7 linked regions of the Homo sapiens genome follow. The protein of the gene in region 2 purifies or fractionates together with the protein of the main gene of each other region. This does not show direct contact. Each region holds a gene or a part of one and is shown on either strand. Other genes may lie near its edges. The genes, in order: CENPB, ZNF331, IFFO1, CEP78, CTTNBP2NL, MRPL45 and FBXO38.

The links.
Region 1: the proteins of ZNF331 (region 2) and CENPB purify together in Homo sapiens (affinity purification with mass spectrometry; 2 studies listed by BioGRID and IntAct, with this or other methods). This does not show direct contact.
Region 3: the proteins of ZNF331 (region 2) and IFFO1 purify together in Homo sapiens (affinity purification with mass spectrometry; 2 studies listed by BioGRID and IntAct, with this or other methods). This does not show direct contact.
Region 4: the proteins of ZNF331 (region 2) and CEP78 purify together in Homo sapiens (co-immunoprecipitation; 3 studies listed by BioGRID and IntAct, with this or other methods). This does not show direct contact.
Region 5: the proteins of ZNF331 (region 2) and CTTNBP2NL purify together in Homo sapiens (affinity purification with mass spectrometry; 2 studies listed by BioGRID and IntAct, with this or other methods). This does not show direct contact.
Region 6: the proteins of ZNF331 (region 2) and MRPL45 purify together in Homo sapiens (affinity purification with mass spectrometry, with the first as the bait; one large-scale study listed by BioGRID). This does not show direct contact.
Region 7: the proteins of ZNF331 (region 2) and FBXO38 purify together in Homo sapiens (affinity purification with mass spectrometry; 2 studies listed by BioGRID and IntAct, with this or other methods). This does not show direct contact.

What each region holds. Positions count from the first base shown.
Region 1 is NC_000020.11:3,783,941-3,788,225, forward strand, and holds the start of CENPB (major centromere autoantigen B), read right to left. Parts: upstream 2,801-4,285; 5' UTR 2,544-2,800; coding exon 744-2,543; 3' UTR 1-743. UniProt on the Homo sapiens protein: Interacts with centromeric heterochromatin in chromosomes and binds to a specific 17 bp subset of alphoid satellite DNA, called the CENP-B box.
Region 2 is NC_000019.10:53,536,677-53,540,944, reverse strand, and holds the start of ZNF331 (zinc finger protein 331), read right to left. Parts: upstream 2,801-4,268; 5' UTR 2,649-2,800; exon of another isoform or gene 1,993-2,648; intron 1,730-1,992; 5' UTR 1,663-1,729; intron 1-1,662. UniProt on the Homo sapiens protein: May be involved in transcriptional regulation. May play a role in spermatogenesis.
Region 3 is NC_000012.12:6,549,543-6,553,042, forward strand, and holds part of IFFO1 (non-homologous end joining factor IFFO1), read right to left. Parts: intron 1,962-3,500; exon of another isoform or gene 1,856-1,961; intron 1,460-1,855; coding exon 1,399-1,459; intron 1,249-1,398; coding exon 1,153-1,248; intron 355-1,152; coding exon 214-354; intron 1-213. UniProt on the Homo sapiens protein: Nuclear matrix protein involved in the immobilization of broken DNA ends and the suppression of chromosome translocation during DNA double-strand breaks (DSBs).
Region 4 is NC_000009.12:78,260,075-78,263,574, reverse strand, and holds part of CEP78 (centrosomal protein of 78 kDa), read right to left. Parts: intron 669-3,500; coding exon 591-668; intron 1-590. UniProt on the Homo sapiens protein: Centriole wall protein that localizes to mature centrioles and regulates centriole and cilia biogenesis. Involved in centrosome duplication: required for efficient PLK4 centrosomal localization and PLK4-induced overduplication of centrioles.
Region 5 is NC_000001.11:112,451,714-112,455,213, reverse strand, and holds part of CTTNBP2NL (CTTNBP2 N-terminal-like protein), read right to left. Parts: intron 766-3,500; coding exon 658-765; intron 1-657. UniProt on the Homo sapiens protein: Regulates lamellipodial actin dynamics in a CTTN-dependent manner. Associates with core striatin-interacting phosphatase and kinase (STRIPAK) complex to form CTTNBP2NL-STRIPAK complexes.
Region 6 is NC_000017.11:38,296,040-38,299,967, forward strand, and holds the start of MRPL45 (large ribosomal subunit protein mL45), read left to right. Parts: upstream 1-1,128; 5' UTR 1,129-1,144; coding exon 1,145-1,210; intron 1,211-2,409; coding exon 2,410-2,587; intron 2,588-3,311; coding exon 3,312-3,429; intron 3,430-3,928.
Region 7 is NC_000005.10:148,425,458-148,428,957, reverse strand, and holds part of FBXO38 (F-box only protein 38), read right to left. Parts: intron 3,437-3,500; coding exon 3,257-3,436; intron 1,746-3,256; coding exon 1,011-1,745; intron 1-1,010. UniProt on the Homo sapiens protein: Substrate recognition component of a SCF (SKP1-CUL1-F-box protein) E3 ubiquitin-protein ligase complex which mediates the ubiquitination and subsequent proteasomal degradation of PDCD1/PD-1, thereby regulating T-cells-mediated immunity.

The sequences.
Region 1 (4,285 bases), on a different chromosome or scaffold from region 2:
TGGGCCCAGCCCCAGGCCCCTCTGCCCAGGATGGGGCCCTGCCAGAGAGGGAGGAGAGGCATGGGGCCTGCAGCTGCCCACAAGGAAGCGCCCTTGGTTACTTCCACGGTGGGGGGCCTCTTGGAAACCTCCAATCTGGAAAGAAAACCAAGGGCCAAAGTCACATGGACAGGGCCAGAGAAAGGGACTGGGGAGGTGGAAAGCAGGCAGAAGCAGGCTCAGGAGCCCGCAGTGAGTTAAACTGTGCTTCTCAAGGCGGCCTGGGGGGTGGGGGTGGGGGCTGCCAGCCTTGCAGGGGGCCTAGGCTGGACCTTCTTCTGGAGCCCTTCCCAGAATGGCTTTGGGGTCCCCCCACCAAAGACCTGACGTGGATGGCAGAGGGGAGAGGCACTCTCCGGCCGGGAACCTCCAGGGCCCATCCCTGGCTGCTGCTGTGGTTAGTCCACTGAGGGCACGGTGTGGTAGCACCGGACAGCTCCCCACCCGCCCCACCTGGTCCCCTGAGCCCAGGGCCAAATGGGGAGGAAAGAGGATTCTGAGAAAGAGGCAATAAGCAGGCAGTGAGGCTGACCTCAGCCCCGGGCCCGGCCGAGGTGACCGGGCCTGTTGCAGGACCAGGGGAAGCATTACTAAAGGATCTGGGGCTCTGCACTCTGGCTCCATGCACAGCGGGTGCCCAGAGAGTCCTCTGCCCTGGGGTGGTGCTGCCAATCTAGGTTGGGGGCACAGCTAGGTCCAGTGACTCAGCTTTGATGTCCAAGACCTCGAACTCCCGCCTGCCTGGCGTGGTTCTTCCTGGTCACATGAACCAGATCGTGTTCCAAGTGGAGGATGTGGCTCTGCACGCGGTCATCAATGGGGAAGGAGGTCAGGTACCTCTTGACCATGGCAAAGTAAGCCATGGCCTCCCCAAAGCTGGGTACAGGCACCTCATCACCATCCTCCTCATCATCATCGTCGTCTTCATCTTCATCATCCTCTTCCTCATCGTCCTCTTCCTCACTGTCTGAATCAGAGTCCTCCCCACCTTCCAGGAAATGCAGAGTAGGGCACTGGGCTTCCTCCTGGGCACCATAAGCCCCGAAGCTGCCACCGGCCTCCACTACTCCCTGGGCCCAGTCCTCAGCCTCCAAGCCCTCCGAGGAGCTCTCCTCATCTTCCTCCTCTTCTTCATCACTATCAACATCACCCTCCTCCTCCACCTCCTCTTCCTCCCCCAATTCCTCTCCTTCCCCCCCTTCCTCCTCCTCCTCCTCCCCTTCCTCCTCCTCTTCCTCTCCTTCACCCTCTTCCTCCTCCTCTTCTTCCTCCTCCTCCTCCTCTTCCTCTCCCTCACTCTTGAGGGAAGTGGTGATGGTGGCATTAGGGCCACCCCCAAAGCCAGCCTCACGAAAGCAGGCGGCTATGTCCGAAGGCTCCACTGCCTGCCAGGCGGCAGCCACAAAGTGCAGGGCCTCCGTGAGACCCAGCTGCAGGCCTGAGGGATCCTGGCCCTCTAGCGCGGCCATGGCCTTGAGCAGCATGGCCTGGCGGTAGTGGCCCTTCACCTGCTGGACCACTCCCCTCTCCAGCGGATGCACGGTGCCGGGAGGGAAGAAGGCCAGCTGCACATGCCGCAGGCCCGAGGTGTCCAAGGACTGGGCAGCCAAGCGGCCGGCCAACAGCAGGACCCGGCGAGACTCTGCAGCCATTCGGGTGTCCAAGGCCTTCAAGTACTTGGCCAGGGCCTGGGTGGTGACACCACCCTTGGAGTTGGCGGTGTAGTCGCAGGGCAGGCCGGCTTGGCCTGCGCGGGGCTTGGCCGACTTGCCGGCCACCAGCGGGGGCAGCTTCTCGCTGCCGTCGGCATTGGCGCATAGCAGGACGCTCAGGCGCTGGGTGGCTTGACGCGGCCGTCCGTCGCCTCCGCACAGCCCCGCGGCCTGGTCGGGCAGGAAGTCGTACCATAGACTGGTCTCGGTGGCGCTGAACACGTCCTGCGAGGCGTAGCCCTCGGCCACCGACGGCGGCTGCTCCTCCCGAGCGCGCCAACCAGTAGTGCTCCCGCCACTGCCCTCCGAGGGCACCGCGGCCGGACTGGCAGGCGCCGCCGGGGTGCGGGGGGCAGCGTTTCGCGCGCGGGCGCGGGCCACGCCGCTGCAGGACACCACGCCGTGGCGCCGGCGGAAGCGGTCCAGCCAGCCGTTGGAGGCGGTGAAGTCGTCCATGCCCAGCTCCTCGGCTATGCGCAGCGCCTTCTCCTTGAGGATGATGCCCTTGACCGGCAGGCCGGCGGCGCGGATCTGCTGGAACCAGGCGATGAGCAAGCCCTCGAGCTTGTCGTAGGGAGACAGCTTGTTGGTCTTGCGGCAGGTGGAGGCCACCCCGTACTTGCGCTCCGACGCCAGGATGGCGCGCTTGTTCTTCAGGATCGTGCTCAGCGTGGACGGCGGGATGTTGAAGCGCCGCGCGATCTCGCCCTTGCGCAGGTCCGGATTCTCCTCCACCTCCTGGATGATCCGTGACTTCTCCCGGAACGTCAGCTGTCGCCTCTTGGGGCCCATCCCGGCGCGCCCCCCGCCCCGGGGCCCGGCGCCGCCGCCGCCGCCCCGGGGCGGGGGGCCCGGGCCCGTGGCGGGGGGCACCTGGCGGCCTCTCCCGCGCGCCCCGCCCGAGACAAAGCGGCTCGCGGGCGCGGCGGCGGGGCGACGACCCGGCCGGGCCGGGGGCACCTCCGGGGACGCCGGCGGGCGCGTCGCCGGGCGGCGGGCGGCAGGCGACGGGCGCAGACGAGGGCGGGCGGCGCGGGCGCGGAAGGCAGGAAGTGCCGCGGCGCGGGGAGCTGGGAGCGCGGCGAGCGGGGCGGAGCGGGCGGAGCGGGATCTCGCGGGAAGCGCGGGGACGCCCGGCGCCTCCTCCCCGCCCTCCGCGCCCACCCCCTTCCCGCCGCCGGGACATACCGCGGGGGGGCGCTGCGGCCTGCTGGACCTGCCCGTGCTGCGGCCTCCGGCGACCCGGCAGCGACGCGGGCGGGGACGCGGTGCATCGCTACTGCGCCCGGCGGACAGCGACTTGCTGCTCAAAAAGAATAAGAACCAGGGTTTTTGTTTGTTTTTTTTTTTTTTAATTAAGGTAAAAATAACGCACTTTTTTTTTTGCGGAACCTGAAAAATTCAAGAAGTTGAAAAACGCTTTTCACGTCACCTGGAGAGATGCACAGGTAACATTTTGATACATTTCCTTCCAGTCTTTTCTCTAGATGCATGTCGTTTTCTTTTTAAAAATTTATTATATAAAACTGGCATCAGACTGTATAGACTGTATATCTGGCATCTCCTGCTGTTTTACCTGGCATCAAGTAGTGAGAATTTTGCCATATCGGTAAGTATCATTGCCAACACGCTTTTTAATGATTGTGTAGCATTCCAGCTATGAATGAACACTAGCGTATGTAACCTATTGTTACACACTTAAGTTATTTTTAAAATCAGCATTACAGTTGTAAATCTATTTGATGGTGCTAATGACATTTTTAAAGTTCTAGTAATCCCACAACCCATAGATAAACACTCATAACATCTTGGTGTGTCACTTTCTGGGCTTTTCCATGCATATAGCCATAAATGTATGTGTTTGCACTTACAGAAATAACATCATGTATATACATAAGTGTGAATCCCTGAAGCCTCCCTCTCCTGCAGCAAAACATTAAAATGCCAAGCTCTTAAAACAATGAATGTATAGCTGTGTTTTTAAAAATCTCTTAGGGCAGCACTAAGGGGAACTCCAGCATTGGCAGAGGGGAAGGCTGTGACCCAGGGGGACAGGCTGAGGACCTGGGGCTGGATGAAGCTGTGGGTGAGTGTAGACAAAGAAGAAAAGAGGACCAAGGACAGTGCCCTGGGTCCTCCAAGGTTAAGGGCTCAAGAAAGAGGCCAGGTGCAGTGGCTCACGTCTGTAATCCCAGCACTTTAGGAGGCCGAAGCAGGCGGGACCACTTGAGATCAGGAGTTCAAGACCAGCCTGGCCAATATAGTGAAACTCCGTCTCTACTAAAAATACAAAAAATTAGCCAAGTGTGGTGGCACTCACCTGTAGTCCCAGCTATTCGGGAGGCTGAGGCAGGAGAATCGCTTGAGCCTGGGAGGCAGAGGTTGCAGGGAGCCAAGATCATGCCACTGCACTCCAGCCTGGGCAAAAGAGTGAGACTCCATCTCAAAAAAAAAGAAAGAAAGAAAGAAAGAACCAAATAGAGACTCTTGAAGTGGAGGAGCCCCTGAAGCAGGAGAAAAACCAGGCTACTGTG
Region 2 (4,268 bases):
TTACCTCAGCGGGCCTAATGTAATCACCAGGGTCCTCAAAATGAGAAGAGGGTGAGATGAACAGAAAGAAGTAGGGTCAGAGTGACGTGATGGAAAAGGGACTTGGCCTGTCTTTGCAGCTTTGATGATGGAAGAAGGGGTCACAAACCAAGGCATGTGGGGCAGTGTCTAGAAGCCAGCAAAAGCAAGGACATAAAATACCTCCCACAGGGCAGGCTCGGTGGCTCACACCTGTAATCCCGCACTTTGGGAGGCTGAGGCCGGCTAATTAATCACCTGAGGTCAGGAGTTCGAGACCAGCCTGATCAACAAGGAGAAACCCTGTTTCCACTAAAAATACAAAAATTAGCTGCGGATGGTGACATGTGCCTGTAATCCCAGCTACTCGGGAGGCTGAGGCGGGAGAATCACTTGAATCTGGGAGGTGGAGGTTGCAGTGAGCCAAGATTGTGCCACTGCGCTCCAGCATGGGCAACAGAGCAAGCCTCCATCTCAATTACAGAAAAAAAAAGACTATCTCCTAGAGCCTCCAAGCACACACACCTCCTAGAGCTCTGCCAAAGAGCCTCCAAGCACACACATGTCCTCCGTGAGAGGACACAGCAAGATGGTGACAGTCTCCAACCTGGAAAAGGGCCCTCATCAGAACCTGACCATGCTGGTACCCTCTTCTCAGACTTCCAGCCTCCAGAACTGTGAGCAATAAATGTTTGTGGTTTCAGCCACCGGTCTATGGTACTTTGTTACAGACTAAGGTAAGAATAAATTAAGGAGTGTGTGCAAAACACAATAGAGTATGGTACAAAAATGCGCTCAATAAATGTGGCCAGGCTCCTCTCTTTTGAAGGATTCATGAATAATCCTAAATAATATACTAAAATGTCATGTTGGATAAGGTATTTACAAAAATCTTATTCAATGGAATTTGTAGGCAACTGAAGCATTTCCTTCATTTACTATTGTTAATAACTATTAGTAGTGTTTAATATTATGTCAGGTGCATTTTTCTTTCTTACGGTTATAACTAAACTTACTTCTTTGTAGCTGCAGAGTATTCCATGAAATGAACGTGGTATAATTACTTAACCATTTCCACCATCCTGAACAATAATTGTGGTCAAGGTACACAGCCTTCGATTGTAGACCAATGGGTCTAAATGTCTTTGGGGCATGTCCATCCTTCTTAATGCCATGAAATTACAGAGTATCTCCTTAGGGTGGTGGTGGTGGGGGACAGATACACTAACACTGATAATCACATACAGTAAATATACACAGAATGTCCCTTGGAAAGTTGTAAGTGGAGTTAAAGGCAGGCCCTCAGGTTAAGGATAACAGTTCTAGGCCATTTGAGGCTGTGGTTCATTTTGTGAACCTGCAAACACCCATCCCAGTTACCTTCATATGTACGTTGCTCCTGATGTACAGACATCCAGACTTAGCACAAAACAGCAGCACTCACTGTGCACTCCCACTCAGGGGTGCGCGTCTATGGGTTTTATGCGTGTTAATGCATTTCACCCTCCTCACAAGCCTATCTTCAGAAGGCTCAAAAAGCTAAGAGGCAGAAACAGGACTCAAATCTTGGTCATCTACCTTTAATGTTTGGTCTTAAGTCTTATAAACACATATCATTTAATATAAAAAAAAAAGGATACTCACCTGACCCTTTCAGATGTTTAACGATTCGTCTTCCTCCTCGGGGATGCTTTTTCTGAAGGATGCTGGCCTGGGGAAAACAGAACCGGAAGGGTAACACCTGCCATACCTAATAAAACCAATGAGAAATACGAGGCCCCGAGATGGAGTTTCTGGGAGATTCCTGAAGAGCACGCTGTGGCGATTGAGATGATGACGCGTGGAGCTGCCCCCCTCCCTGTCTCCCACATCAGGGACCTGTCCCTCTACAGGAGGAATTCTACTCCTGAGGCCACCGTCCCCTGTCACTCAGGTGGCCTGCATGCACAGCACTTCTGGCTCTGAAAGCGTCACCTCATGGCTGTTTCTGCCTTCTTGCTGGTGAATTTCCAGGCGAGGCTCAGGCGCTCACGTCCCTCCGCGGCCCTTGTTCTCAGGCAGGTACCGCTTGGTTAGGAGGTGAAGGCAGGGGAAGCAGCAGAGACGCTGGAGCTACAAGTTGCACTGTCACACACACCTGCATCACTCAGAAGGCCCGATCATCCATCCCAGCACAGAGACGCTGAAGCTACAGGTTGTGTTGTCACACACACCTGCGTCACCCAGAAGGCCCGATCACCCATCCCAGCACAAGTCTGCACAGCTCAGCCTCACCACAGCTCACTCTGTCCTGAGACACATCTGCGCCCCTCATACCCACTAACGCCCAGCACGGCCATGCTACGGGCCCCACCACCCCACACGGTGCAGAGGTGCATCCGTGGGCCACGGAGACCCGTCCCGACCGCTGCCCCCGCACAACCCCCAGAGCGCACCTCACGGAGCAGAGTCCCAGGGACGCACCGCCGAGGTTCACAGGCACGGGCTGCGTTGACCCAAAGCCTCTGGAGCACCCCCGGTCACCAGTTATGGGGAGAGCCCGGCTGTGTCACCCCACACTCTCCAGCAAGTGCGTCACCGTCAGAAGCCCCGTGCCCGTCTCCCCTCGGAGCCACGCGCACCAATCTCACCTGCGCGGACTGGCGGAGATGCAGCGGCTGCGTCACTGGTGCAAACGCGCACCCAGCACGGCCCCCATCGCCCCCAATGACGCTCGCGTGCACCCGTGTCACAGTTACGGGGACAGGGCCGCCGCGTCAGCCTCGTACTCCCACGCAAGTGCGTCACACACTCGGTCCCGCCACCCCCTGGAGGCCAGCGCGCATGCGCACGCGCACCCAGCGGCCGCAGCGCGCAGACAGCAGCAGAGCCCGACACGCATGTGCACACAGACCCCTACACGTATGTGCACGTACCCAGACCCCGACACGTATGTGAGCGTACACAGACCCCCGATACATAGCGTGCTCAGCTGTTGACGTGCCTGTGCGGGCACACAGACCCTGACGGGCGTGTGCGCACGCACAGATGCCGACACGCATGTGCAGACACAACAGAGCCCGACACACACGTGCGCCTGCACAGATGCTGACACGCGGACACACTGACACGTGTGCGTGCACCCCTCCCATCCCTTTCCCTCCTCCCACTCTCCCAAAGCCGCAGACGCACCCGGTAGTCCCCCAACGCTGGGGCCTCGGGAGAGGGTGAGGCTAGAAGAGGACGCGGGGCCGTCGGGGGAAACCAGAGCCCCAAGCCCCGTGTTCCAGCATGCAGCACGGCGTACTCCTGGATGGTCTCTGGGAAATGTAGTCCGGGACGGTCCCAGGCAGGGGCCTCAGGGCGCGTCCCAGGTCGGTGCCGGAGCGGGCAGCCCCAAGCTAAGCCCTTCCTGGTCCCTGCAGACGCCCCTTCCCGACTGGGAAAGGAGCTGTGTCACCCCAGCTGGGACCCCGTCTGGCCTCTTGAGTGGGGTGATGCCGGGCGAGCCATGGCTGTCCTCAGAAGGGTATCCTCTCCTAGCCCCTCTGGAGCGTCACCTGGAATTCTCTGCAGGCCGCTAGCACAGGCTGCCGGAGCTGCTATTCGGTGTCCCTTGCTTGCTGCATTGTAAACAATGTACAGGTAGCAGTTATGCCCCGTGAGTCCCGCTCTCATTCCAAGTACTAACGTCACAGGGTCTACAGGATGTTGCAGGTACTTAACCACAGTCTCATTTTGACTCAAAATCCCACTTTTTGGTATTTATGCCAAGGAAGTAGCTATAGTTGTACACAATGTTGAAGTATGTTCACAAAATGCTTTTTTTCTGAAAATCTTTTTCTCTTTTAATTAGATAGACTTTAGATTCATATGTAGTTACAAGAAATAAAATTGAGAGATCTTGTGTACCTTTCACCTGGTTACCTCAGCTGGTGATTGTAGTATATAATACCACAACCAGAAGATTAACATTGATGTAATCCACTGACGTTACCCAGAATTTCCAGAGAATAATTTTTTGTTTGTTTGTTTGTTTGTTTTGAGACGGAGTTTCGCTCTTGTTGCCCAGGCTCAAGTGCAATGGTGCGATCTCGGCTCACTGCAACCTCCGCCTCCTGGGTTCAAGGGGTTCTCCTGCGTCAGCCTCCCCAGTAGCTGGGATGACAGGCATGCGCTACCACGCCCGGCTAATTTTTTTTGTATTTTTAGAAGAGACGGGGTTTCTCTATGTTGGTCAGGCTGGACTCGAACTCCCGACCTCAGGTGAT
Region 3 (3,500 bases), on a different chromosome or scaffold from region 2:
GAGAGAGGGGGAAGGGAGAGACGGCGTTAGAGACAGCTTCCACGATGCCCCTCCTGATGCTGCTCCTTACCCCCCAGTCTAGCCCCGTGAGGGCCCCAGTTGCCAGGTAAGGCTCCCCAAGCAGGAGGCAGGGCCTGCGTTCCAGGCCAGCCGCCACGGAAGCATCCACCTGCCCCACCCACCCCTGAGAGCAGAGGGCAGCTCCGTCCTCACCTGGAACATCTGGATCATGTCCTCGCAGTTGCGCTGCTGAGCCACATCGCAGAGCTTGGCGGTGATGTCGATGCGGCGGCAGATGTCCATATCCACCTTCATGGCTTTCTCCTGGATCTTGGTGTCCAGCTCCGACAGGTTCTGTCCAGGGAGCCCAGGGAACAGTGAGGAGGCGCCCAGTTCTCCAGACAAGGACGAATTAGGCCTGGCAAGGTCCTCATCCTTCCCACCACATTGCACCGGTGCCTCTTCTGTGGAGTCTCCCTGAGCTGACTGCACCCCTCTTCCTGGGTAGCGGTGGCCTCCCCACAGCACTGTGTGAATATGCTGGGCATGGGGCGGCTCGGGCCACTGCTCCCTGGCCAAACGGAAGCCCTGGAGGGCATGGCCAGTGCCTGGGACATGCAGGGGGCTCACTGGAACGACTAGCGGTCCTCATCCTCCTAGAACTTACATTCCCAGAGAGAAAGAGACTCCTGGGAATTATAAGAGTGGAGAAAGGACTATAATAATCGCAACAGCTAACACTCTTCCAGCTAACACTGCATGCTGGGCACTGTCCCGAGTACATGACCACCCTCACAATACTCCTGCAGAGCGCACGCGTTTATTTCCCCACGCCAAAGGTGAGGCCTCAGAGGCTGAGGAATCGGCCCAGCGCCCCGGCGCCAGCTGCAGAGCCTCCACCCCAGAAGCTGCTCACTAACTGCTCTGCAACCCCAGGCCCTCAGAAGCTGCGCCACCTCTGTGACGCAACACCGAGACTTTTGTTGCTTGTCTTTCTCTGGAGTTAGGGGTGGCTAGGGGAAAAAGGGAAGGAAAGCAAAGAGAAGGGGAGGAGCCGTGGACGGGAGGCCAACAGGCCAACACTAGAAGGGCCTACTCTTCTGGCCTCAGAAGCCTCACTTCGACCCTCGGGAAGCCTGGGGCTGCACTCACGTTACTCATGAGCCCCTTGAAGACCACCAGCTCAGCCTTCAACTGTTCCACCTTCAGTGCCAGCTCCTCCTGGCAGGCATCAGCCTCCTGGGCTTCCTGCAGTTGGGAGAAACCCTGATGTTGGTGGCACTGCCGAGGTGGGAGGAAGATAAAGATGCCAAGGAGGGACAGGGAGACGGCAGCAGGGTCATGGGCAGACAGGGGTACCCAGGGAAGCACCAGCAGCAAGTGGGGCGCCACCCTCACCTCCTGGAGCTCATTTACACGGTCTTGCAGCTGGATCCGCACCGTGTACTCCTCTTCCCACCTGACAGACATGGGAAGGGCGGAGAGAGCTTAGGTACAGAGTCCTTCCCTGCCCCCATGGCTCCCTGTCCCCACCTCTCTGGCTCAGGCCTCAGACCCCAGTTCTGGTTCCCTGGATGGGGAGGAGCAGGGCACAGGAATGCCTGGCCAGCCAGCTGGTGACCAACTGCAGCTGTCACGCGGCTCTGTGCTTCCTGATGGGCGTCGAGCTCGCCAGCTGCCTTCCCGGAACCTCCGGGCTGTGCACCAGGAGCTCTGTTTGGGCAAGTGCTGAGGCTCCGGTCCTCCGTGATGCCCATCCCTGCTCAGGCCCCAGCTCAGCCAGCTGTCCGGCTGGCCTCATTGCCCACCTCCTGCCCACACCAGACCACCAGGTCCACCCGGCCCAGTCTCCCACCTTCAGTCGCACAGATCCGGGCTCCCGCCTCCTGCCCGCACCAGAACAGAGCTCGTCGAGCCCGCTGCCCTGCCTCTTGTGGTATCATTTAACCCTGTAAAAGCATCTGCAGGACACATAGTGTATCAACAGAGTGGGTCAAGAGCCTGGTAGGAGACACTCAAAGTCCTTCCCCACTAGCTCCAGAAACTACCCACCCAGAGCCTCCTCTAAGGGAGTCACAGAGAGGTGACCAGACTGGCTCAGAGGCCGGAAGTCCCACAGCAGCATGACAGCAGTGGACACACGAGCCTGGGGTTACTAGCACTCAAACCCAGAGGGAAAGAGAAAGTAGAGTATGTAAAGGGGCCCGGTGAGTACGGCAAATGAGAACTAGACACAGCCTGTTCCAGGGCCCAGAATTCAGAGATTAAGACTGCAAGTGGGCCGGACGACACCCTGGGCCACAGGGCAGGGTCCTAGGTAGGGCATGCTTCCCAGAGCCAGCTTTGTCATGTCTCATCAGCCATGGCAGGCAGTGCATATTCTATTCCATCACAGAGATGGAAGCCAGGGCAACGTGCTGCTTAGGACCCGCCCGGCATTCCAGGGCCCTGCAGTCTAGCTGGCGTAGCAGCACATCTCAAATCCTGTTCCTGTGAGCTCATCACTTCTGTCAACCCGAGAAGGGAGGGGAACTGCACCAAGAGAGAAACTTCAACACAAGAAAGGTGGTTAGGAAGGGGCCAAGAAGACAGCAAGAAAATTAAAATCTGAGTGGGCAGCTTCTGAAGCCTTGGGTGAAGCCCTTTCTTCCCCTTCCCTCCATCTTCCTTCCTGTGTCAGCCTCTGGGTCCCATCTCCTCATTCACAGCCGCACTGCAGTATTCCTAATAATAACTCCTCCACATCACCTCGACTGCCCCTCCCTGCTGGGCAGAGCAGGAGGAGGCAGCCAGCCCAGCCACCACCCTGCTGGCTCCCCACACAGCCCAGCTCCCAGCCTTCCTGGCTCCCAGCCCCCTTCCCTGTGTGTCCCGTAGGTGCTTCTCCCCTCCTCCCTGGCATTCTCATGCATACAGTCAGGCCACTAAGGGAACCAGTCGCATCAGATTATGTTTTCTTAGCTAAGACCCTTATCTTTTCTGGGTCTTGGTTTCTTCATCTATGATGTGAAGGCATGAACTGTGGTGCCCTCATGCGCCGGGAGCCCACGAGTCCCTGGAGGGAGACAGTAAGCCTGTCAAGGGCACGCTAACCCTGGACAAGATGTGTGAAAGAGGGCAGGAGGGGCTATCTGACAGTGAGCTCAACAGAGCCTGGAAGAAACTTAAGTAAGGCAGTTATAGCTAAAGGTTAAGCCTAAGGAAATCTTACAGGGTAAAAAAAATCTACAAATGAATCATCTGGAAGCCCACTACAGTTCTATTTGTTCTTTGGCCAGACTTCACACAGACAGGTTCATTTTCACCTCCATTTCCATCTGGTCTCACTTATAAGGTTCCCTTAACATGGGCAGAATTTGAGAGCGATATCCATGTGTTCTGCATGGACCAAATATCTCTCTTCCAAAAAACTGTATCCCTGGGTTGAAGAGAGAAAGCAGGGACCATTCCTATGTTGGGAAAATGGGGGCTCAAAAAAAGGTCACGCACAAGGCAGGGGA
Region 4 (3,500 bases), on a different chromosome or scaffold from region 2:
GGTGCTCAACCTTTATTGAATGATTAACTGTCTTTCAAACCAATGCATATACTTTCAAAAATTCCTCCTTAAACTTGCTTTGTAATAATAAATTATAGTTATGTAGAACTTTCTAGTTTATGCCCTGCTCTTATGCACATTCACCTAATTTAGTCCTCATGGTATAGATTTTTATCTTTCATTGCATTCTTACCGGTTTTCCATTATCTTTTACCTTATTTATTCATTTTCCTAATTCCCCTTCAGTAGATAGTCTCATCCCCATCTTTTACGCAATTGTATATACAGTATAAGCCTAATAAATGCATTCTTGAATTGATGCATCATGAACAGAAAATAAGCTCCAGTCATATAAAAACAGAGGAAAAGAAAACAAACTACAATTTTTACATTTTTAAAAAACATGCTTTTTGGAATACAGATCACACGGTCACCAAATATAAGTAAATACAAACATTAACATACTGTGACCATTTGCAATACACTATATTTTCTCATTTTAAAGTTTATAAAGTGTGTGTATGTATGACTTAAAGTTAAACCAAAACCAAAACAAAAAACTCTCAAAAGGTAAGAAAACTTTTATTTACCTCACTGACTCGTTTATCAACCTTAAGCCTTATCACTCTTTCTTCCTTTAACTGCTTTAGGCACTCCTCCAGTTTTTCCTAGTATTAAGTAATAAAGTAAATATTATAATTAATTCCCAATATGATCCCCAAAACTCTTCCAGCTGTTGAGCTCACCAAGTGTTTAGGGACAGAGCCAGAAGTGAACTCAGATATCAGGATTATAGCCTACTGCTTGTATAATATCATACCATGCTAGGGAAATTAATTACCAAAAACATCAGATTCGCACATTACAGATTTATTTCCACTCTTTCCAAAATAAATTTATGACAGCTCACCATAGAAGGCATACACATATATTTATTGAGTCAAATAAAAATTAAGGCTATGAAAAAGAAATTCTATTCTTATTTGTGGATCCCTTATAATAGGAAGCCCTATTAACACACTTAACACACCTGAATTATGTAACAGCAAATTAAAAGTCAAGTAACCAATTAAAAGGGACAGGGCTCTTTCTGGTAAAGATTGAAATACAAAAGGAATTAGACATGATGGAGATTCTCCAATTCCTCCAGAGTGTTGAGGGAAGGAACTCTACCATACACTTACATTAGAAAAGGAAATTGGTGCCACTTTCTGGAGTAATCTTTAGTAAATACTACCAATTCAATGTCTGGGAATTTACCTTAAGGAAATCACCAAACATGTGGACAAAGATTTATCTACCAACATAATGTCACAGGACTGTTTACAACTAAAAGCCTCCAAATTGTGATTGGTAAAAAAAAAAAAAAAAATAGCACATCCCTATGATGAAATGCTCTATGGAGCCACTAAAAACAATGATATGGGTCTTAACCAGAGTTAATGAATGGTCGTTTTTCTTGGGAGATGGTCCATAAGCTAAGTAAGATTCTCTGATGTGGAAGAGCATTCAATGATGTGACAAAATATTTTGATATCTTTTTAAGATAAAAGGGCAAATTACAAAATATCCAGGTGTGTGTACCATGCAGAGGTGGTTTTTATTTCCCTCAATGTTTTTCACGATTTTCAAAAATTTTCTCAAAGGGCATATATTTTTATACTCAGAACACATTTGAAAAATCAGTAAATGCCCTAATAACTACAAATTCTTTAATGTTTCATTATCAGTTAAAGCCAACCAAGTTTTTATGGGAAAAAGGAAAAAGAAATTGCAAAATTCCTCTACTTATTATTTATATAATGGTTTTAATATTTAGAACTGTTATCAAAGAACTTCTAACCAAACATGGAAATAAGCAAAAAACTTATCACAATTGGAGAAAGAAGAATAAAATCCTCCATTCCTAACTAGTTCTAAAAATCACATCAAAGCACAATTACATGAAATTGTTTCTCCCTCTAGTGGAGGAAGTGAGAACATAATGTTACATATTTATGAAAGTTCCCTCCTCATTACTCCTTTAAAGAGTAATTCATGCTCCTTAAAGAAAATAAGGAAATATGAAATGAAACAATTAGAAAGTAAAATCACTTAACATTCCACTACTTAAAAACGACTAATGATAAAGTGTTGTAGTAATTTTCCTCCCTGACAGCTGCTCCCCTTTCTCCCTTCTACCCATGGAAAAGTTTATATTTTTTCTGGAACACAACCCCAGAAATATCAAATGTTATCCTGTACAACAACCCTTGAATATCAAGGGCTTGAAGTATGCAGGCCCATTATATGCAGATTTTTTTCAACCAAATGCAGATCAAAAATACAGTATTCTGGCTGAGCACGGTGGCTCATGCCTGTAATCCCAGCACTTTGGGAGGCCGAGGCAGGCAGATCACAAGGTCAGGAAATTGAGGCCAACATGGTGAAACCCCGTCTCTACTAAAAATATAAAAATTAGCTGGGTGTGGTGGTGCGCACCTGTAATCCCAGCTACTCGGGAGGCGGAGGCAGGAGAATCACTTGAACCCGGGAGGCAGAGGTTGCAGTGAGCTGAGATTGCGCCACTGCACTCCAGCCTGGCAACAGAGCGAGACTCCATCTCAAAACAAACAAACAAACAAAAACAAGTATTCTCCAACGCAAAAGTTCATAAGGAGGACTGACTTTTTATATACCCTGGTTCCACAGGTCAACTGTGGGGCCTGAGCATGCCTGCATGGATTTGGGTATATGCTGGAGGATGGGGTCATGGAATAACCCGAGTATGCTGAGGGAAGACTGTATATCCAATTTTATGTTAGACATTCTTCCATTTAACACTGAATCAGAGAACTCATAACTCTGACTTTTTTTTTTTTTTTTTTTGAGATGGAGTCTCGCTCTGTCGCCTAGGCTGGAGTACAGTGGCCTGATCTCGGCTCACTGCAAGCTCCACCTCCCAGGTTCACACCATTCTCCTGCTTCAGCCTCCTGAGTAGCTGGGACTACAGGTGTCCGCCACCACGCACAGCTAATTTTTTGTATTTTTAGTAGAGACAGGGTTTCACCATGTTAGCCAGGATGGTCTCGATCTCCTGAACTCATGATCCACCTGCCTTGGCCTCCCAAAGTGCTGGGATTACAGGCGTGAGCCACCGCACCTGGCCAACTTTGACTTTTTTAGTGGGCTAAATAAAATATTCTACTGAGCCAGCTTACTGGTTCATGTAATCATTCCTTTATGGCTAACAAGACTGTTTCCAACTTTCAACATTATAAGATAAAATAACCACTTTTAAGCATGAAGGTTTTGTTCTCCCATATTTAGAATAATTTTCTTGCAATAAATAAAAAAGGAATTTTAGGTCAAAGCAAATAAACATTTTTAAGGCTCTGCAATACTTACATCCAAATTGCTTTCCAAAAGATTTCTAAGATTTTATACTGCTACTGGCAATGAAACAGTCTATCACTTGGATATATCACCTCTACTCTGTTGACTTACCTTCCCACTTAAA
Region 5 (3,500 bases), on a different chromosome or scaffold from region 2:
TTTTTACACAAATATAGCCTGTTTTAATTGTCTTCCCAACCCTATTTGAGGCAGAGACTCTGCGTGAGAGGGAAAGGGTTGAAGAAACTCAGTGTTTTTCAAACTCTGAGATCCATTAATGGATGGGGAAACTAACTGAGCCACGACTAGAATTTTAAAAAAATATATAAACAGAAAACATCAATGTGTACTGTAGCAGTAGGGGTTATATATGATTTCATGAGATTTTTGTTTCAGGCGTAACTGTGTATGTCTACATATACTGGGTTGTGACATAAAATGTCACTTCTTACTGGGGGTTCTAAGTCAAAAGTTTGAGAGCTACAAGCGCTAAGTTACCATTCCCCAAAGAGTGTTCTACGGAACAATAATAATCCCACAGTGAGGGATCTATGCCAATAAAAGATTTTATAAAACCATGGATTTGCTAAACACAGAATACCCTATCTTGTTCTTGAAGACTCACAATGTGCTTCTGCATACTAAAGATCCTAACAAAGTTAGAAACCTGTTTAACTTTGCTTAATCCAGTAGTTCCTAAACTTATTTGACCACAAAGCCCCTTTTCTGAACAATACCAGTTGGCATCCTGCAGAATAATCTTTGGGAAATGCTGTTCCAGGCAAATGCTACTGTGAATCCCTCTACCTTAATTACCTGTTGAGTCAGCCTCTCTCTTTCCTTCTCTAGCATGTAGGTGACATCATCTCCTTCAGCCGTATCCTGTGCATGCCGCTGCCTTTCTTCCTCAAGGTCTAGGATCACCTTTAAAGAATTTTTTAAATTTCATTTTCAAATATCAAGGAGTCACATTTATTAATACAACCAATAATAAGTGCCAAATCAGGCACCTTAGATAGTTCCAGAGATCAAACAAACAAACGAATAAATGAAACCCAGCAAGGGCTATCAAGGAGCACACTGCCTTACAGTGAAAGACATGAAAGCTCTGTGTTAAACAGTAAGATACTTACTTTACTTGAAGTATGTAGAGAATGATATGCAAACAGAGAGAAGAGAGCAACTAATTAGCTAGAGGGGTTGAGGAGGTGTCGAGAATTAACAGAAATTCCAAGAAACTGCAGGCAGTTTGGTGTTACTAGGGGCCAGGTGTAGGTGATGGAGCAAGACAGGACCACAGAAACCTGAAAGCTGAGATTTTCTTCTCAATTCTCAAATCACCAGAGGCACCAAAGAAGGAGCCTGAAATTCAACATTTCAAATAGGTGACATTCTAAGTGTGCCTTGTTTAACTAATAATATACATTTTTATATAGTTAGATAAGAGGTGGATAGACTCTCTTGACTTCCTACTGCATGTAAAAAGGCTCAAATATAGAGACCTTAAATGGAGATTTTTCATACGCCCTTTTATTTAACTTGCCTACCCCTATTTCACTTACCCTGGTGCCAAAGGATTAAGCCCAATTTTAAGGAGAAGACAAATATATTTATTTTTCGAGACAGGGTCTTGCTTTGTCACCCAGGCTGGACTGTAGTAGTGCAATCATGGCTCACTGCTGCCTTGGCCTCCCGAGCTCAAGAGATTCTCCCACCTCTCAGCCTCCCAAGTAGCTGGGACTACAGGTGTGCGCCACCACGCCCAGCTGATTTTAGTATTTTTTGTAGAGATGGGGTTTTGCCATCTTGCCCAGGCTGGTCTGGAACTCCTGGGCTCAAGTGATCCACCCGCCTCAGCCTCCCAAAATGCTGGGATTACAGGTGTGAGCCATCACACATGGCCAAGAATACAAATTTAAAGAGACATTTTTCACATAATCCCATCTACAACTGCAAATATTCTGATTGCTTAGTAGCTTCTGCTCATGCTTCAGAAGTGCCTTGGCCCAGACCTCCAGGGTAGAGCACTCTTGTCCCAAAGGCCATTTCTTAGTCTTCTCACTAAAAATTTTTATGAGTGAAGAGAGTAAATTTTCTGGGACATGAAACCTGTCTATAAAAATAAAAATGAGCTCATGCCTGTAATCCCAGCACTTTTGGGAGGCAGAGGCAGGAGGATTGCTTGAGCACAGGAGTTTGAGACCAGCCATTTATTTCTCCCTCTCCCTCTCCCTCCCCCACCCCCTTCCTTCCTTTTGAGGAGACAGGGTCTTACTCTCACCCAAGCTGAAATGCAGTGGCATCATCTCGGCTCACTGCAATCTTTGCCTCCTAGGCTCAAGTGATCCTCCCACCTCAGCCTCCTGAGCAGCTGAGACTACAGGCATACACCACTATGGCCTGCTGATTTTTTGTAGAAATGGGGTGTCGCCATGTTGCCCAGGCTGGTCTCAAACACCTGGACTCAAGTGGTCCTTCTGCCTCAGCTTCCCAAAGTGATGGGATTACAGGTGTGACCCACTGTGCCCAACCCAAAACCCCATTTCTACAAAAAAGTACAAAAATTAGCCAGGCATGGTGAGGTGTGCATGTAGTCCCAGCTACTCAGGAGGCTGAGGTGGAAGGATCACCTCAGCCCAGGGAGGTCGAGGTTGCAGTGAGCCATGATTATGCCGTTGCACTCCAGCCCAGGCAACGGAGTGAGACTTTGTCTCAAAAAAAAAAAAAGAGGCCAGGAGTGGTGGCTCATGCCTGTAATCTCAGCACTTTGGGAGGCCAAAGCAGGTGGATCACCTGAGGTTGGGAGTTCGAGACCAGCCTGACCAACATGGAGAAACCCTGTCTCTACTAAAAATACAAAATTAGCCAGGCATGGTGGCACATGCCTGTAATCCCAGCTACTCGGGAGGCTGAGGCAGGAGAATCGCTTGAACCCAGTAGGCAGAGGTTGTGGTGAGCCAAGATTGTGCCATTGCACTCCAGCCTGAGCAACAAGAGTGAAACTCTGTCTAAAAAAAAAAAAAAAAAAAAAAAAAAAGAAGAGACTGGTGCTGTGGTGTATGCTTGTAGTCCCAGATACTAGGGAGGCTGAGGTGGATCACTGGAGCCCAAGAGTTCCAGGCTATAGGGTGCTATGATCGCACCTGTTAATAGCCACTGTACTCCCGCCCAGGCAACACAGCGAGACCCTGTCTCTCAAAATAAATGAAAGAAAAAAAATTTGGCACATTTCCTTTTTTTAATCTAATTTTTCAATTTAATAGAAAGACATGCTTTTGGCCAAAAGTGGTAAGTCTTATCTTCTCCCTTTTGGGAGTCCTCAAAAATTACAGAAATGGAATAAAAAGACTAAAACCCCACAAAGGAGAGAGCCTCTAGCAGAGAAAAAATTTTAATAATATTTTGAAGAAGAAAAGAGGCTGGAGTTGTGGTAACTACTTTACTTTGAAGGAGGGAAGCTGTTTTGCCTTGCAGAGCCCCAAAGAGATGGAACCTGGAGGTGGCAGGTACTGCAGAGGAGAGGTGAAATGTAGAATAGAAAACAGGAGAACTGGCTCAAAGCCTGTTTTTTTGTTTGTTTGTTTTGTGTTTTTTTTTTTTTTTTTGAGACAGTCTTGCTCTGTCACCCAAGCTGGATTACAGTGGTGTGATCTCAGCTC
Region 6 (3,928 bases), on a different chromosome or scaffold from region 2:
TTTACACTACTGAATTTACCAGGGTGATCCCAACATCACGAATCCTTTAACAACTTAACATGAAGCAGCACGTAGCAGTTACCTGCATGGGTTCTGGAATTAGACTGCTTAGATTCAAATCTCGGTTCTGCCAGTTATCATCTATCTAACCTTAAGTAAATTACGTAATTGCTCTGTGACTCCTTTCCGAAATGACAAATCACAAATGTTTTTGTCAATTCACGTGTCTTCTGCTTTAGTAAACATAGTAGAAGACAGTAGTCAATCTCTTTTTTTGTTTTTTTTTGAGACAAAGTCTTTCTCTGTCACCGACGCTGGAGTGCAGTGGCGGGATCTCGGATCACTGCAGCCTCCGCCTCCTGTGTTCGAGGGATTCTCCTGCCTTAGCCTCCCAAGTAGCTCAGACTACAGCCGCCTGCCACCAAGCCCGGCGCTCTCTTGCTGGCGCATGACAACCGTGCGTTCCACCCTACGACTAATTTTTTTTTTTTTTTTTTAGACGGAGTCTAGCTCTGGCTGGAGTCAGTGGCGCGATCTCGGCTCACTGCAACCTCTGCCTCCTGGGTTCAAGCGATTCTCCTGCCTCAGCCTTACAAGCAGCTGGGACTACAGGCGTGTGCCACCACGCCCGGCTAATTTTTGTATTTTTAGTAGAGACGGGGTTTCGTCATTTTGGCCAGGCTGGTCTCGAACTCCTGACTTCAGGTGATCCACCGGTCTCGGCCTCCCAAAGTGCTGGGATTACAGGCGTGAGCCACCGCGCCCGGCCTCCTTTTCCTTTTTTAACTAATGGAATAAACGGCAATGTGCCAAGCATACAGCAATGCCCATTCCCCGGCCTTCAGAAAGCCTCGGGCGCAGGCGCAGCTCGCGTTCAAGCGCTCTCTCGCTGGCGGGGGACAACAGTTCGTTCCACCCTACGCCCAACGTTGTCTCCCTGCGCACGCGCGGCCGTACTCCGCCCTCCTTACTCCACCCTCCCCCACTCCCGCGAGCACGTGCGCGTCCTCGCTGCTCACATTTCGGCGGAGGGCGCGCTCCCTGGAAAATTCCACTCCTGTGCTAGCTCCACCCTATGCGGCTTTTCTCCTACCCGACGCTCTTCACTCTCAGCTCCCTTCCCGGCGGCCTTTGCGGGAACAAGATGGCAGCCCCCATACCTCAAGGGTTCTCTTGTTTATCGAGGTTTTTGGGCTGGTGGTCTCGGCAGGTGGGTAGGGACGGGGCCGATAGGACCCTAGGGGCTACAGGAGAGGACAGAGTCGAGGGAAATACTCTCTGTGCAATTGTCCTTGGTGAGCTGGGACAATACGAGTCATACCTAGGCCGGGGAAGAGGCTTAGGTGGACAGGACCTAGCTGCGGAGCTCAGTGGTCGAATGGGGATAGCCTAGACAGGGCCATGAGAGCGAGTGAATTAACGGATATTAAGTTTTTCCGGATTGGTTTGGGTCTGTCTGGCGAGGAGATATTAAAGGAGAGACAAGTAATGGGTTGGAAGGTGGACTCCCTAATCTTCGATTCTTATAAGTGAACTACGTTGAAGAGTAGCCGAAAATGAGGGCGTCCCATATTGTCACTGCCCCGTCTGAGCAAACCTCATGATCAGAGAGAAAAGATCTCCTGATCTTTCGAGGGTTTATTGGTCAGTTGGGTGCTAAAACGACAGAATAAAGTTTACAGCGAGACTCCCGATAGGATGAGCAAAATATCACGAGTACATATGGAGCAGATGCCTACAAGAGGACTTTGCTTATGCTTTAAGCATAGCATTCAGGGCCCGGCGCGGTGGTTCACACTTGTAATCCCAGCACTTTGAAAGTCCGAGGCAGAAGGATGGCTTGAGCCCAGGAGTTCGAAATGAGCCTGGGCAACATATAAGACCTGGTCTTTACAAAAAAATTTTAAAATTAGCCAGATGCGATGGCGCACTCCTTAGTCCCAGCTACTTGGGAGGCTGCGGTGGGAGGATAGCTAGAGCCCAGGAGGTCAAGGCTGCAGTGAACCGTGATCGTGCCATCGCACTCTAGGCTAGCGATCTGCCTCAAAAAATAATAAAGAATAGTATTCTGCCCATTTCAGTATTGAGTTGGTGTTTCCCCATCACCATCAGTTTTTGAAACTTGCTTTGATCAACTCAGTATCCGTAGGAGTTAGCATAGTCCTGTACTGTGGGAAGTTCTAAAGGAAAGCCTTTAGTAAATGTGATGTTAATAAAGGTTGCTAACTGTCTTCTATTTAGAGACACCCATAAGTATTAAGGTCCTAATGCATTTTTTCCCTGTGATATTGTTTTATAATTGTTCCTGAAGCATTCTTTGGATATTCCCTCTCTATAGTGCTTTGCTTAGAGTTTGTAAAAGATAGTAGATCTTTTTTCTAGGTTCCTAACCTTTCCTTTACCTTCCAGCCAGTTCTGGTGACTCAGTCCGCAGCTATAGTTCCAGTAAGAACTAAAAAACGTTTCACACCTCCTATTTATCAACCTAAATTTAAAACAGAAAAGGAGTTTATGCAACATGCCCGGAAAGCAGGATTGGTTATTCCTCCAGAAAAATCGGACCGTTCCATACATCTGGCCTGTACAGGTGAGGTATTTCTGGGACCCTGACCTGGGATCCTTCTGTCAGAGATCTTCTGGAACTTGGGATGACTTGGACTATGATTGATAATATTTAATTAAGCACGAAGTCAGTTCAACCTCAATAATGATTAACCTTATATACACTATATATCATGAAGTTGTTCTTTGAACTTACTTTCACACTGTCCCTAGAAGGCAAGAGTGAAATTTCTCCATTTTGTGGAAGTAGAAACTGAGGCTCTGAGAGAAGACTTAAATCTTTCTGGCTTTTTTTGTTTTGTTTTGTTTTGTTTTTTGAGACAGAGTCTCGTTCTGTCGCCCAGTGGCACAATCTGGGCTCACTGCAACCTCTGCCCCCCTGGGTTCAAGCGATTCTCCTACCTCAGCCTTCCAAGTAGCTGGGATTACAGGCACCTGCCACCATGCCCGGCTAATTTTTGTATTTTTAGTAGAGATGGGGTTTCACCATCTTGGCCAGGCTGGTCTTGAATTCCTGACTTTGTGATCCGCCCGCCTCGGCCTCCCAAAGTACTGGGATTACAGGTGTGAGCCACTGTGCCCGGCCTTGTTTTGTTTTTTTCTAGTGTAACATAGTTCTCTCTACATGGAAGTCTGTTTCATTAGTCTACTTCATATCCACAATCCTTCCCAATTTTACATTACTTCAATTTTATGAGTTTTTCTCAATCTTTCAACACTTTCTTAATTTTTTTCTTCCTTTATTACAGCTGGTATATTTGATGCCTATGTTCCTCCTGAGGGTGATGCACGCATATCATCTCTTTCAAAGGAGGGACTGATAGAGAGAACTGAACGAATGAAGAAGACTATGGCATCACAAGTGTCGTAGGTGTCTGAGACAATTGGGTATTGGTATTAGAATAACAATTTTTTGTTGCTACTTTATCCCAAAGAGACCTTTTTGGGTTAATTGGGTTGGGTGTCATTCTCTTAATAACATGATGGTATTTTCTCCTTTGTACTAGAGTCTGTATTTAATGCAGAATAATGTGGGCTTCCTGATTCTCAGCATCCCTGCCTTTATTGGTAATTTTTGTCATATCAGTTAGGGAGTTGACTTTGGAGTGTATAGGATCCTTTTTTAATCATATATTTAATTTTTTTTTTTTTGAGATGGAGTTTCGCTCTTGTTGCCCAGACTAGAATGCAATGGCACGATCTTGGCTCACCGCAACCTCCGCCTCCTGGATTCAAATGATCCTCCTGCCTCAGCCTCCTGAGTAGCTGGGATTACAGGCATGTGCCACCATGCCCGGCTAATTTTGTATTTTTAGTAGAGATGTGGTTTCTCCATGTTGGTCTGTTGGTCAGGCTGGTCTTGAAC
Region 7 (3,500 bases), on a different chromosome or scaffold from region 2:
TCAAACATTTACAATTTAAGCTGGGAAAAGTACTTTCACCATATGGCAGAACCACTGTTTGCAAAGCATAAAAAAGTCTTCAAATAAAACTCATATATTTCAATGAGTTTATGCAACTATGGTAACTAGCACATAACTAAGGTCTCAAATGTATCTCATGAAAGCTTACTTTTGTTCTGTTTAGCTCTGTATGAATCCATTAGTTCTATTTTGAATATACAAAAAGCACTGACTGCCTATGTTCTGGGACTGATTTTAAGATTTTAAAACTGAGGGCTACTTGAAGAAAATTAAAATACATTATTATCACTGTCAGGCAGTAATGATATAATAAAGGCAGGAAAGAGTACTTAAAAATAAGGTCAGAAACAGTAACAGACTTATGATTAATAAATATGCTTACACCCAATCCATGGCTACACATTATAAACATTAATGAAATTAAATACACATATATGTTTTGAGTATTTTCACCAAAATAATTCTCAGCCAAACCATTTACTTACCTGCTTATCTCCTGGCAAATCTTACTTGAAGCAAAACTAGATTTCTGAAAAAATTACTAAGTACTGCAGAGACAGAAAGAGGGGTATACACAGGAAGCTGCACTGAGATGTGTTCCCCCAGCCCCAGCAACGTCAAGTCCTTGCCTTTTGGCTGAGTTTAAAACTTTCCTAAGTTAAGACTTCTCTAAGTGTGTGATGGCAGCAGAGTTCATCTACTGGGGCTTAGGTGTCAGTCAGTGTTATATTTAGGGTAAATATACACAATGACATTTTCCTTAAAAGCTGAACTATTTTGAGCTTTCCAGGTTGGACATTTTATAAACTGTTTTACACACCCACCCTCCAAACCATTGCTGAAATTAGTTCAAAATTCACATGACCCACAAAACCCCAAAATAGAATTTAATTTGCCAAACTGGCTTTTTGTAAGAAAACTCATGAAACAAGTTCATGCCTTTCTGCAGCCCTACCCTGCAGTTGCTAATCCTAGGAGCATTGTCATACCTGACTCAGATACCAGCAGTACATGGGACAGTCTGCTCCTGGCCCTGGTTAGGGGCCTCCGAGGGTAGTCTTCATTAGACTGCACGTCACAACTCTCAGGCTGGGAGCTCCCCCTCCTGTCCTCACCTGTAGCCCCAGAGCCACTCCCATTAGTCCTCTCATCATGTGCTGGGCCTGAAGACCCCCCTTGTGGCAGAGTCCTAAAGGAAAAGGCGGATCTCGTACCATCCGGGCCATTCACAACACAGGCTCGGCTGGTTGAAGGACGTTCCTCATCAGAACACCTGCTAGTTCTCCTTTGGGATTCCTGGGGCCTGTGACAGCAGCATCTGGGGCAGACAGAACTCTCTGCATCTCCCTCCTCCATGGCCTCAGAGTCCTCTGACCCACCGGGGGAGCAGGCACACTGCCTGGACACATCCACTTCTGTAGGGCTAGGCTCGGAAGAGCCGCCGCTGTTCACCGTCCTTACAAAGTCGGGGCTTTGAGAAGCAGTGTTGTGTGAGCTGGAGTTTCCCACTGTGCTGGCGGTGGTGCTGCTGCAGCTGGGATAAACATCCTTGTTTTTTTTCTTTTCAGGAATATCCCTAGCTGCTTTCATATCGGCTTTGATCTGCTCACTGGTGACCTGACAGCCTTTCTCACAGCTGCTTTCCTCGAGGGGAAACTGCTTCGACTGGCCCATCTGATGGGAGTTGTACCTCTTTCGAAGTGGAGTCTTGCCTTTTCCACTTACTGCTTATAGAAAAAGAAGAACGGCCCGAGGAAAAGAAAAGATTTCAGTATAAATTCTGGACAAAACGCAAGAGTAAATTTGGAACAGGAAATAATGTATACTAAACACTAATTTTCCTAAAGTATAACTGTGATCACATCACTGAGCTGCTATAAAATTCTCTATGGCTCCCTAGTGTCTATCTGGTTTATACTCCTTAGCTATGCCTTCAAACCTCACTATGATCTGATTCCAAACCATCTTTCCATGTCGTACCCTCCATATACATTCTACATTCCAGCTCCAGCTTTTCTCTCAAAATACCCCTGCTTTACTACCTCAGGGGCTTTGTTCTCACCAATTTGTCAGCTGTGGTCCTCCCTGGTCCTCTACTCCATCTCTTCTGCACCCCCACCCCAAAGCAACTGTAGTTGTAGTATATGCCCTGTAATATTACTACCTATTGTTTTTGACATGACTCTTCAACTAGACTAGAACTTCTGTAAAGACAGACCATGACTTACTCATCTCTGTATCCCTCACAGTGCCTAACACAGTACCTGGGGCATAGTAAGGCTCAATGAAGATATAAAGGAATAAATAGGTTTTGTCTGGCCAACAGAGGATTTAGTTGCTAAATTTAGAAACTGCACTGTCTGGGAAGGTAGGTTAGTCAGCTGGTCATATTACTTTTCCTAAATTTCAGTTTCCATAAAACCTTCTTTCAACCACATTATAAAGTTATCTGAATTTCTTAAAAGAAATAAAAATTGAATAATGAGTCAATGATTAGCAAATTATTTCAAGTCCAAAGAACTAAACTTTCCAGATAATAGTACTACATAAATGTTCCAGGGTCAGTGTTAAATGTGTTTTGAACATTCAAAAATATTAAGGAGTAAGGGTACCCAAGGAAAAATGACTGCACAATTTGCAAAATATCCATCTTTTGCTAAAAGTGGTAAGCACGTGGTTCTGCGAAACCAAAGGGAAGGAAAGACAAGGAAGAAGTATGAACTTCAAAGTTAAGAGAGAAGTACAGTTTCTTGGTGAGGCACTGCAGAGGGTTGTTGCCTAGATTTAAAGGGATGTGAGGGATTATAAAAATATGCTTTAGGACTCCTTCCAGCACCAAACTAGCCACCAATATTCATTAAGCACAACTGGACAGATTATCAACTGGGGAATGGTTGCTTTTCATTGCTCTGGATGACTCAGCAGTCATCCCTTACATAAGGCACAGGCTTTTCGCTCACTAATCTCTGACACCCTGATGCCACAACTGAAGCCTCCACTGTAGACTTATAATCCTTACTTCTCTTCTTCCCTGAGCCCTCATTCCACAACACTGTTGTGTTGTATTGCCTACAAGAGCACCACCCAGATTTCCCTTACTTGGGCAAGTGCATTTCTTGCTTCCTGTCACATTCCGTAATATATGTTAACTGCACCCAAGTTGTCATATTAAGGCCAAGTGTGTCAGTTCTGATAGTGACTCTCATTAATAGTTCAGAGAAAGACAATTTCTCACCTGACAATTCTCTGGACTGCACTGACTCTCCAGTTTTTTCTTCACGTTCAGAGTAACGCCGAGTACCGTTCTTAGGAATCCAGACTTCTTGGAGTTCTAGACTATCTTCTTCATCATCACTCTCTGAATCATGAACAGTAATTGAGGTTGGTTTTACTACACGCTGAAGACCACTGGGTCCTTAAAAAAAAGCACAGGCCTAACAGTTACTTTTTGCGCAAGAAAGGATCTAATGCAAAGTACT